Regions from separate parts of the Homo sapiens genome. Here region 1 is linked to region 2. Evidence: fine-mapped expression QTL. A gene starts in region 2. The other region holds a variant in brackets. All regions are shown on one strand. Distances are between the middles of the regions. Region 1 overlaps JAM3 (junctional adhesion molecule 3). Region 2 holds the start of VPS26B (VPS26 retromer complex component B).

Region 1 (5,370 bases), 77 kb after region 2:
ACGTTCTTTAAAAGGCTGGACTGGCCGCCACTCCATCATGGTTTGTTTTGAAATGCGACAGAGCCTGTGGCGTCTGGGTGCTTTCTCTGTGGCAAAGAGGAACAGTGGGATCCATTTTCTTTTAAAAATGTTATTGTACTTGACAGACTTGATTTCGCAATTGCCTTTGGCCTTAGACAATCTTAACAAATAATTAAACAAACTTAAAAAAAAAAAATAGCATTGGGGGCCCTATTTTGTGAGCCATCCATAACCAAAAAGAGGTCTGTTACAGGAGCCCAAAGCTGGGACGCTACATGGAAGACACCAGTGTCCCTGCAGTGCCCACCTGAGAGCTGTGCTGGATGAAGCAAGGGCCACGTGAGTAAAGCTCACTGGGACACAGCCACTGCCAGGGCCCAAGGATGGCAGGGCCTCCTGGCAGACAGCGAGGCAACAGTGAGCTAGAGCGGGGGCGCCTGGCGCAACCCCAGGAGCTGACTGGCATCTGTGTATGTACATCTGAGGGCTTCTGGGTGGCCTCTGGGTACAGACTGTCCTAGTCATCTCAGGAAGAGGCAGTTCAAAGCTAACCTGAGAGGTTTCTTTTGAAGAGATGCAAACTGATTTCAACATTGCTTAACTGGAATTTTTAAAGGTTTCCTAAGCAACTATGGTCTGATGTGTAGACAGTATGAGTTCCCTTGTGAAAAAGGCTAAAACTTGTGTGAGAAAAGGAACATCACAGTAAACTTCCATGAGAGGATTCCTTGGGTAAAATACTCTTAATTATTGATATTTTCCAATTTAACACTAGTAGCTTGGAACTTCTACCTTAAGTTGAACTTTTTTAAAAAAATAGGTTATTTAACATTGTATGACAATATATTTACAGTTTAAATAGAAATTTTCTTTTCAATAATCAAAATACATCCTTAGCAAAAATTTAGATGTAAAATTTTATAAAATAAACAAGACCCATAGAAAAGCATATTTCAGTACCATTTCAGACTTAGCCTAAGACGAAGGTTTTCCTTAAATCCTGACACCCTGTTGGACAAGCAGGGTTCCTCAGGCAAGATCCCTCTTCCAGCAACCAATTTACCTTCCTGATTTTGGTTGTTTTTACAAAATGCTGATCCAAAAAGCTTCTCCACAATGGACACTGCAACACCGATCAGCAGAGCCTTTAAGAAGAAACTGCGGTGGTGTCTGTGGGCCGATGAAGTAAGGCTGCTGTGTAAGAAGCCTTTTCTGGGTTCCCGCCGGGATGCGCTGCTGGTGCTGTCCAGCCACCTCGCCATCTCACATGGTGCTGTCGTGGCTGCTGAACGACCAGTGGTGAACATGCTGGCTTCACAGGGCCCAGCACGGGCGTTTACGTGAGCAAACTCTTTAAGATCACCCTAATACTCATGCGGGAATCAGGCCAGAAACAGATTAGGAACCCAACTCAGTGAACGCACCCAGTTTCGCTTCCTTGTGGTTATATTTACCGGGTCCATCTTGAGGAAAATTCTTCTATTCATGTGGCTTGTTAGAGTAAGAAGAGTAGTGGTCAACTTTGGCCAAAACGAAAAGCTTCTGAATGAGTGTCTAGCTCTGTCCGAGTGCATCAGCTCTCGCTGCCTTGACAGGAGTTTCTAGCAGAGGTATGTGCACGTGCGCTCTGTGCGCTCTCAGCCACACCGCGGGTCTCAGATCACAAACGATGACTTGTGTCTGAAGTCGCCCTGCAAAGCCAACACACAGTTAGAGCCATCAAGGGGCCTGGTGGCAAGCAGGGAAAAACACGGAGTAAGTCTAACATGGGCTAAATACAGATGGAATAATCATTCTTAAAAAGTACCATCACTAGCGCTTGCAAAGCACAAATCCCATTAGTGTGTGTGTGTGTGTGTGTGTGTGTGTGTGTGTGTGTGTTACTGTGAAGGGGCTGAGGAGCTCAGGAGCTGCACAATCACTCAGAAATCTTCCCAGGAGACCCGTGTGGTTTCCAAGGGGGAATGTTGTTTTCCCTGCTGGGTACACCTAGGTTTCCAGGTTTACTAAATGATTACCTCCTCGTCAGTGCGGATGTAGTTAACTCCATCTGGTTTCCCTGGGTTCTTGTAACTATGAGGAGAAGAGAGCAGTTTAGCAACAGGGTTGTTATATTATTGCCAGCTTGAACTTCCCTTTTTTCACATAAGGCAGGCTCACCTTTCTCCATCCTGTTTATTGTTGATGAAGTAGCCACGTCTGTATGCACAGCAGATGCCCAACGTGATCAGGGCCAGTACAGCAAGGACAACCAGAACCCCCCCAATAATTCCGCCAATGTTCAGGTCATCTGAAGAAAAGGAGGTTTGGTGGAAGCCATGATACACACTATCTGTTATTTAAAAAGGCCCTGGCCCTGCTGTGCCTCCTTCCTTCACCCCAAACCCACTTGCCCCCTGCCCCCTCAGGCCTACCCCAGCTAGAAGAGAGAACACTTACAATCCTTCTAGCCTAGAACATATAGGACACCATAACTCCTAACTTCACACGTGAAAAGTACTGAGACTTCTACAGTTGAAATGCAGTCGCACTGAAAAGTGTATTAAAGTGGGCTTGGCACTGTAGGCTTAAAAATCCTCTGGCTGAATGCCTGAGATTACTTATGGAGGAAATGGTTATGAGGACAAGATTAGGAGCCAGGATCCCAAGAAGAAAAGAATCCCTAATTTCCAGGGCCTCCCTTTGTTGCAGATTGCTGCGGGGAAGAAAGGTAGCTTCAAGCCTTAAAGAATCTGTCTCAAAAAACAAACAAGTAAAGAATCCTAGGTAAGAACTAGAGCTTTGTCTCTGCCGGCTGCCTGACCTCCGATCTATAAGCCCTCTGAGAGGAAACCCCCTGGAACCCTTTTCTCATGTCTATACACTGGGCAAAGGCACTGGGTCACTTTCATATGGGGCTCTGGCAGCCGTTCCTTCAAGCAAGCGACACATGGAAAACTATGCAGGGAATTTATCAACAAGAGCCAAGTAACTTGGAAGTTTTAAAAAAATCTCCTTTATCCTAGTGTATTGGTTCTCAAAGATGAATGTACACTTAAAAATCAACTTGCAGGCCGGGCGCGGTGGCTCACGCCTGTAATCCCAGCACTTTGGGAGGCCGAGGTGGGCAGATCACGAGGTCAGAGATTCGAGACCATCCTGGCTAAGGTGGTGAAACCCCGTCTCTACTAGAAACACAAAAAATTGGCTGAGCGTGTTGGCAGGTGCCTGTAGTCCCAGCTACTCAGGAGGCTGAGGCAGGAGAAAGGTGTGAACCCGGGAGGCGGAGCTTGCAGTGAGCCGAGATTGTGCCACTGCACTCCAGCCTGGG[T/C]GACAGAGCGAGACTCCATCTCAAAAACAAAAAGTAAACTTGCAATCGTTTTTTTTTTTTTTTTTTTGAGACAGAGTCTTGCTCCGTCACCGTCACCCAGGCTGGAGTTCTGTGGTGCAATCTCGGCTCACTGCAAGCTCCGCCTCCCGGGTTCAAGGGATCCTTCTGCCTCAGCCTCCCAAGTTACTGGGACTACAGGCGCCTGCCACCACACCAGGCTAATTTTTGTATTTTTAGTAGACACAGAGTTTTGGCATGTTGGCCAGGCTGGTCTTGAACTCCTGACCTCAGGTGATCCACCCGCCTCAGCCTCCCAGAGTGCTAGGATTATAGTGTGAGCCACCACGCCTGGCATGCAATTTTGATGTTAAAATGTCAATTCCCAAGTTTCATCACTAAAAAGTCAATAGGCTAAAGTAGGTCTGGGGCAAAACTGCAGGAGAAAACAACCCTAGAGCAGAGTTTCTCAAACGTGACACATGAGAAGAATCCTTCGGAACGCTTGTCTCACACACAGACATTTCTAGCATATGTCTGAGGTGGGCTCGAATCTGTATGTGAAACAGTGGTCCCAAATGGGTATCACCAGGCAGTTTTGGAAAATGCTGCTCTGAGGAGAGCTCCAAATAGGGAGGAGGGAAGGATTCAAAAAATGCTCCTGGCTGGGCACAGTGGCTCATGCCTGTTAATCCCAGCACCTGGGGGAGGCCGAGGCAGGAGGATTGCTTGAGGCCAGGAGTTTGAGACCAGCCTGGGCAACACAGTGAGACCCCGTATCTACAAAAAATAAAATTAGCTGAGCATGGTGGTGTGTGCCTGTTGTTCCAGCTACTCAGGAGACTGAGGTGGGAGAATGGCTTGAAGGCTGGGTTTGAGGATGCAGTGACCTGTGACTGCACTCACTGCACTCCAGCCTGGGCAACAAAGCAAGACCCTGTGGTGTTTTTTGTTTTTTGTTTTTTAAGAAAAAAAAAAGCTCCCCAAGTGATTTGGACACATCCTCTCTGCCCCCACCCTCCTCTCAACGCCCCTCCATTAGGGGAACCAGAGCCCTGAGATAACATTACTCTAGGGGCTAAGCTTTGTCTGCAGGTAAAATTACTCGGGCTAAAACTGTCAGTTTTCTACAAGAGGGTTATAACTGGATAAATTTCTGGAGACCTGACACCACCTTACATTTTGATAATTCTATCAATTACCAAAGAATGGAGTTTACTAAACTTGCAGTGAAAGTTGCAAGGCTGGCCACGTTCCCAACACCAGCAGATCCCAGAAGGTTTTGTTTTGAGGACCTGCTTATCTGGACTCGGTTTTCTCAGCCTTCCCTTCACTGTGCAGTGGGTTCTGGTGGACCTAGGCAGCTCCAGAAGAAAGCTAACCCATGGCGGAAGAGTTCTCTAAGCTGATGGTATAATATTAAATTAAAATGTTCTATTCACTTCCCAGTCTTGCGATGAAACCTCTTCAAAAAAGAAACTCACAGACTTCCATCTCCTGCTCCTCACACCTGGCTGAGCCTGCGTCATTGGAAGCAATGCAGTAGTACTGCCCAGAGTCGTCCTTGTGAACAGCAGTGAACACCTGTTTCAGGGAATGACAAGTAAATAATCGGACCCATCATGGGGCCGATTTCTGAGAGCACAGCCAGCTGGGTCCAGAACTAGGTCGACACCTGCTCGCTTGCTTTCAGCTTCCCCAGCACTGTGCATGTTCCTCCCTGACCCACTCCCTGATACCTGCCTGACAGCTCCCCAACAACCAATCCCCTTGGGACTGGAGACACCAAAGCCTGGCAACATCCGAAATGGGAGGTGGAACCTTGCTTTTATTCTGGTAAAAGGGCTCTTCAATGATGACTGCTCCTGGGGCAACATTTTGGCAAAATGAACACAGAGGACCCTGTTAAAATCTGTCTGATGACTACGTGGAACTGGATGGTCCACAGATCAGAAGGTACCTCCCAGGAGAGAACCACATGCAGTAAAAGCCTGGTGTGGTTTGCTGGCCAGGTCACTTTGTCCTCTAGTGCATGACCAATC
Region 2 (5,328 bases):
ATGTCTCAGGAGTAAGGAGATAGACAAGAAATCAGGTGGGGCAGGAACAGCAAGCAGTTTCTTCAACTCCCTTTCATTTAGACCAGAGGAAGGCCTTGACACGGTTCCTAGAACAGCTAATTTCACACTGTCTGGGGCAGAAGACATTCTGGGTTATCTTTCACATACTGGTAAGGTACCACCATCTGGGAGTGATGGTATAGACACAGACTAAACATGCCTGCCAACACTAATTATTATTATGGAGCCAAAGAATCAATGCAATAACTTTAAAACTGCTACTAAAAAATACCTTGCTCAATAGGCAAGGATTTCTCGACTATTTACTATGCGTAGCATAATATGCTTTGGACTCATCCTGTTTATCCTGGGGTTCTTTGCTAGAGATGATTTTACCCTCCAGAGGATATACAGCAATATCTGAAGACATTTTTGTGGTCGCAAGTGGGGGATGCTACTGTTGTCTGGTCAGTAGAGGCTGGGAATGCTGCTAAACATCCCATGACAACATGCCAAACGATGCCAGACATCACAGTGCTGCTACTGAGGAACCTTGCCATCTACCCCACCATTGAACCCAGAAGCAGGAAAGCAGAAGGCATGGAACTCACTCTTCGGCCCCTTTTCTGGTACACTAAGACCTTTCATATTCTGGCTTTAAAATAACAACAAAGAGCTTCCTGTAAGATCAGCCAGTCTTCAACCTGATTTCATGTTCTTAAATACCAGAGGCAAAATGCTTGAGGCTGAGCAGTGAACCCAAGAGCCAGGCCACAAGGCCTCCTTTTCCCAGGGTTTCTCCTACCTGTGTCTCCGTGTTTCCTGCCTCTGTGAAAAAAAGACGGCAAATTCTTTGCTAAACTCTCAGGATAAGAGAGTTTAACAAAGATTCCCCAAGGAAGTCTCTAAAAACAGAGTTATGTATGCAGTGTGTGGTATCGGTATGGATTCTCTACCAGAGGTGTGTAGCTCACAGGGTATTTACTGTGATTCTACTCCTAACCTAACGACAAAAACAACTTATTTTAAAAGTACCCAAGCATTTTAATAATACACAAGAGTCTAAATAAGGCTTAGAATTGGAGACGACCCAGTCTTGACTGGGAGCTCCCCAAATCACTTTACCATTACTGCCTTTTACTGTCTAGTTCTTATTTGTTTATTTGTTTATTTTTTTGAGACAGGGTCTTGCTGGTTGTCACCCAGGCTGGAGTGCTGTGGTGTTATCACAGCTCACTGCTGCCTGGAACTCCTGGGTTCAAACAATCCTCCCATCTTAGCCCCCCGAGGAGCTAGGACTACCGGCAAGCACCACCACGACCAGCTAATTACAAAAAAATTTTTGGGGGTAGAGGCAGGTCTTGCTATATTGCCCAGGCTGGTCTCCAACTCCTGGCCTCAAGCAATCCTCCCACTTCAGCCTCTCAAAGTGCTGGGATTGTAGGCATCAGCCACTGTGCCTGGCGCTGTCTAGTTCCAATGATTAATAATCATGTTTAAAGCATTGAGAAACTCTGATCACTTAATTGTGGTTTTTAGAAACACCATTTCTTTGTCTTTAAACAGAAAATGTGGTAACTGAAAACTTGCATTCTAATAAAGAAGTCTAAGAAACGCAGCCTAGGTAGTCAGATTTAGACTGAAGATTATGGGTCTTCTTTCTGGAAACATGTACAAGCATAGGTAGTTCAGGGCTGAGGTGAGGTAAGAGAGAACTGGTTAGCTCTCTCACACCACATCTAAAGAGAAAAACGGGTTGGTGCGGGCTCTGGGAAGTGGGGCTCGGTGGACGAGCCTCACTTTGCGTCTGGCAGTTGCAGATGGCCGGGCGATGGGAAAGCCAGTATTGGCAGAGCGGTCTCCCCCTAACAAACCCACCTGCAGGCTATGGCCAGAGCACCTCACCCAGAAATCCTGGGGACAAGAAGCAAAGCCGAGTGCATGCCGGAGACAATGGGGAGAACCCATAGGCAAGGTGCCCATCCCACGAGGCACAGCAGGGCGCTTCCTCCCGCCCTCGCCGTCCCCATCTCCCTGGCAGCGCGCTGTCACTTTTGGCAGGGAGGACAGTAACGCAGGGGGAGTCGCCCACGGGCGGGACTTGTAGCTGAACCCCAGGCCTCAGACTGCAGTTGACAAGCGACTGTGACAGGCCTCGCCGGAGGAGCTGGGCCCTGAATCACCCTGCTCCCCGGCCGGCTGTCGGCGCTGGGGGAGGGGGTCCCGGGGGTCGACTCACCGATCTGCCCGATGAACTCGATCTTGATGCCCTGGTGCTCCAGCCGCTTGTTGGGGTTCTTGAGGGCAAGGCTCACCTTCCCGGAGACCGTCTCCCCGTCGTAGAAGAGGAAATATTTCTCCTTCTTCCCGTCCTCCGTCTTGTGCTCGGCCCGCTTCCTACTCTCTGCATCGTTCAGAAGGATTTCCACCTCCACGCTCTGCCCGAAGCCGAAGAAGCTCATCGCACCGCCGGGCCGGGCGGGTCTCGGTAAGGACCGCTCCCTCGCACCGGGGCGCGGGCTGCCCTAGGTAAAGAAGGCCAGAGGGCCCGATGCGCGAGCGCGCTCGGCCGCCGCGGGGCTGCCTGGCTCCGCCGCTGCCGCCGGGCAGTGGGCGCCGACGGACAGCCGGCTCCACGGGGGAGGGGCACGGCCGGGGGAGGCTGGCGGCTGCGGGCTGCGGCGCCCGAGCAGCAATGCACCGAGGAGCAGTGCCCTCGGCCGAGCCAGTCCCAGCCAGTCCCGCGGCCGGTGGCAGTGGGCGGGCGAGGGTCGGCCGTGCAATGCTGCGGGGGGCAGCCGCACAGAGCCGGGTGTGGGTGGCCTGCGCCTGCCGGGTGGGGTCCAGCGCCGAGCAGCGCTGCGAGCTGCCCAGCCTCCGGCGGTGCAACGCACCGAGGCGCTTCGGCGGCTCCGGGCGGGGGAGGGGGCGGGCGAGCTCCAGCCCGGATGCGCTGGAGCAGCGGCGCGCAGGCGCACCCCCTAACGCTCCTGGGACTCCCGGCAGCCCGGAGGAGAGCTCGCTGCGCATGCGCAGGGAGAGCGCGGCCGGCGCTCCAGCGGTCGGCATGGCAGCTGCTACCTCGCTGGGACAGGCTCTGGGCCCACGCGTGCCGCGCAGTCCCTACAGAACTGCAGTTGTCTTGTCTTCTCGGAGTGCTTTCGGCTACTTTTCCCTTATTACTTTAGCTCGATACACGTTGGGCTGCCTTTCACATTCGGATATTACGCTGTTCGAGTGCTGACGGGAAAGGCAGCCCTTTGACACGCACGCGAAATGTCGCCTGACGAGGGCAAAGGTGACAGTTACTACCGGAAGTACCCTATCTCAGATACCCTTTAGATTTTCCCCCATTGAAGAAAAACGAGGCGGGAAAAACGCTGTTAGGGTTTAACTCAGGCCCTGGCTCCTTCTCGAACGAATTAGCGGAACACCCGCAGGAGCCTTGTTTGGCTTCCACTTTTCGGCCCGCCCAGTTCTCTGAGCGTGCGGCGGACGACGCCGGTGATTGGTTGAGCGAATGGAAACGGCTCGGCGCGGTGGTTGGCCAGTGGGAAATTCTGTACGTTGTGATTGGTCCACAGGAACGACTCGGCGCGCGCGCGGGAGCGAGCTTTGAAAGTTGAGCACGGCGGCGGCGAGCCGGTGCCCTGGGATCATGGTGGCGTTGCGGGGCCTTGGTAGCGGCCTGCAGCCCTGGTGTCCGCTGGATCTTAGACTCGGTGAGCAGATGCAGCCGGGAGGCCCGGGGGCCAGGGCGAGGGTCCTATGCGTCCCCGACGATGCCTAAGCCCGGGCCGGGGTGCCGGTGGGGGCGGGGTGGGGGCGCCCGGCTGTCGGCGGTGCCTGGGGTCCCCAGGGCCGTGCCACGCCAGGATTGCGGCTAGCCAGGTTTCCCGTGGGGGCTCAAGCCGGCCAGGCCACCCTTAGAATAAGCGAATGTTGGCCAGTCTCTTCTAGCGCCTGTGCATCTGTTTTCTCGGCCTTCCCCTTCTTCCTGTGCGTGTCTTCGTGCACCTATCTATTCTTACCTATTAAGATGGTTTTAAATTGCAAATCTCTTTCTTCCGCCAGACTTATTTCTTGAACTTCATGTTCATAGGTTCCACTGGATGTCTCACATGCAGACATCATCAAACGTCACATGAGTGAAAATGGGATTCCCAAAGCCTGCTAATGGCACCATCCAAGCCACCAACCCAGGAGTCATGGCATTTCTGCTTCCCCTTTCATGCCCACTACCACTGTCCTGCCTCTGAGGTGTCTCAGGGCAGCCCCGCTCCATTCCTGATGCTGCTGCCTTCATCATAGCCTCGAGCAATTGCAGGAGTATTTTAGCTGCTTTCTGATGTTAACTGTGCCAGCCCATCCCCCACACTTTTGCAGAACGACTTTTGAAAACACAGCTTTGAATGTGTCAAGCCTGTACACCTTTAATGTTTCCCCTTTGTTTCCTAAATAAATGACCACATCCTTGGCATGCTTTATAAGAGCTGCCATTCTCTCCAGTTTGATTTTCCAAGAGCATAACCTTTGGAGTCGGACACACTTGGATTGTTCCCTTGGCTCTACCCCATAGCATCCATGTATTACCGTGCAGGTTGTTTATCCTTGCTAAACCCCTGTTTTCTGATCTGTCAAATGGGGAGTACAATATCTACCTCACAGGGGTTTTTGTAAAGATAAATTTGTACTTGCCACATAATAACTGCTGAACAGATACTAATACCCACAAGCAAACACTGTAACAATTTTGTTCATTTAGAAACACTTTAATTTCTTTCCCTTTGTGTGCTTTGTTACACTGTGCTTGCTGGGAGGCACTTTTCTGCATTTATTTGCCTGGCAAAACTCTTACATTCAGGTCCAATTGAAGAATCATCTTATTCCTCTCCCTCCTCCCCCAGTACTATTCCCTATTAAGCTCTGTAGCATTTTACATTTTACATATCTATTATTTTAACACTCATCCATAGCAAAAATAATAAATACCATCTATTGACTGTTTTTTATGTGGCTAGCACATTGTTAGGGCCTTTATACACATTATGTTTCACAAAAATCCTGTATTTCCAATGATGAAGGAGAGACTAATTATGTGTAAGTGATCAAGTCAGGATATTTGCCTCGTTCTGACTCAAAATTCAGTGGCCTCTCTTCTATCATAGGCTGCTTTTTTTGGTATCCTAAGTGTGAAATGTTGAGATCTTTGTGGACAAGAACCCTCTAGTATTCATCTTTATATCCCTAGAAGTATAAGTGGCTTCCCTAGTATTTTCTCAAAGTGTTTGTTGAGTGAATAGGTGATGTATTTCTTCCTCTTCTTCC

What was found.
Region 1: its variant is fine-mapped to the expression of VPS26B in lung (TOPMed, PIP 0.94).

Annotation. Positions count from the first base shown.
Region 1 is chr11:134,145,488-134,150,857 of GRCh38, reverse strand. JAM3 (junctional adhesion molecule 3) reads right to left here. Exons shown (of 9, transcript NM_032801.5): 6 at 4,813-4,912; 7 at 2,182-2,311; 8 at 2,040-2,094; 9 at 1-1,712. The coding sequence ends at 1,677. NCAPD3 (non-SMC condensin II complex subunit D3) reads left to right here. Exons shown (of 35, transcript NM_015261.3): 35 at 1-745. Among named protein-coding and RNA genes, the nearest start is that of SNORD153, 3.2 kb to the left of the region's middle. The variant T/C (reference allele first, on the strand shown) is at 3,332.
Region 2 is chr11:134,222,257-134,227,584 of GRCh38, reverse strand. VPS26B (VPS26 retromer complex component B) reads right to left here and starts at 2,914. Exons shown (of 6, transcript NM_052875.5): 1 at 2,240-2,914. The coding sequence starts at 2,462. It overlaps NCAPD3 (non-SMC condensin II complex subunit D3), which reads left to right and starts at 3,618. Exons shown (of 35, transcript NM_015261.3): 1 at 3,618-3,722. The coding sequence starts at 3,659. RefSeq lists enhancers at 2,028-2,177, 2,278-2,337, 3,128-3,177 and a silencer at 2,538-3,007.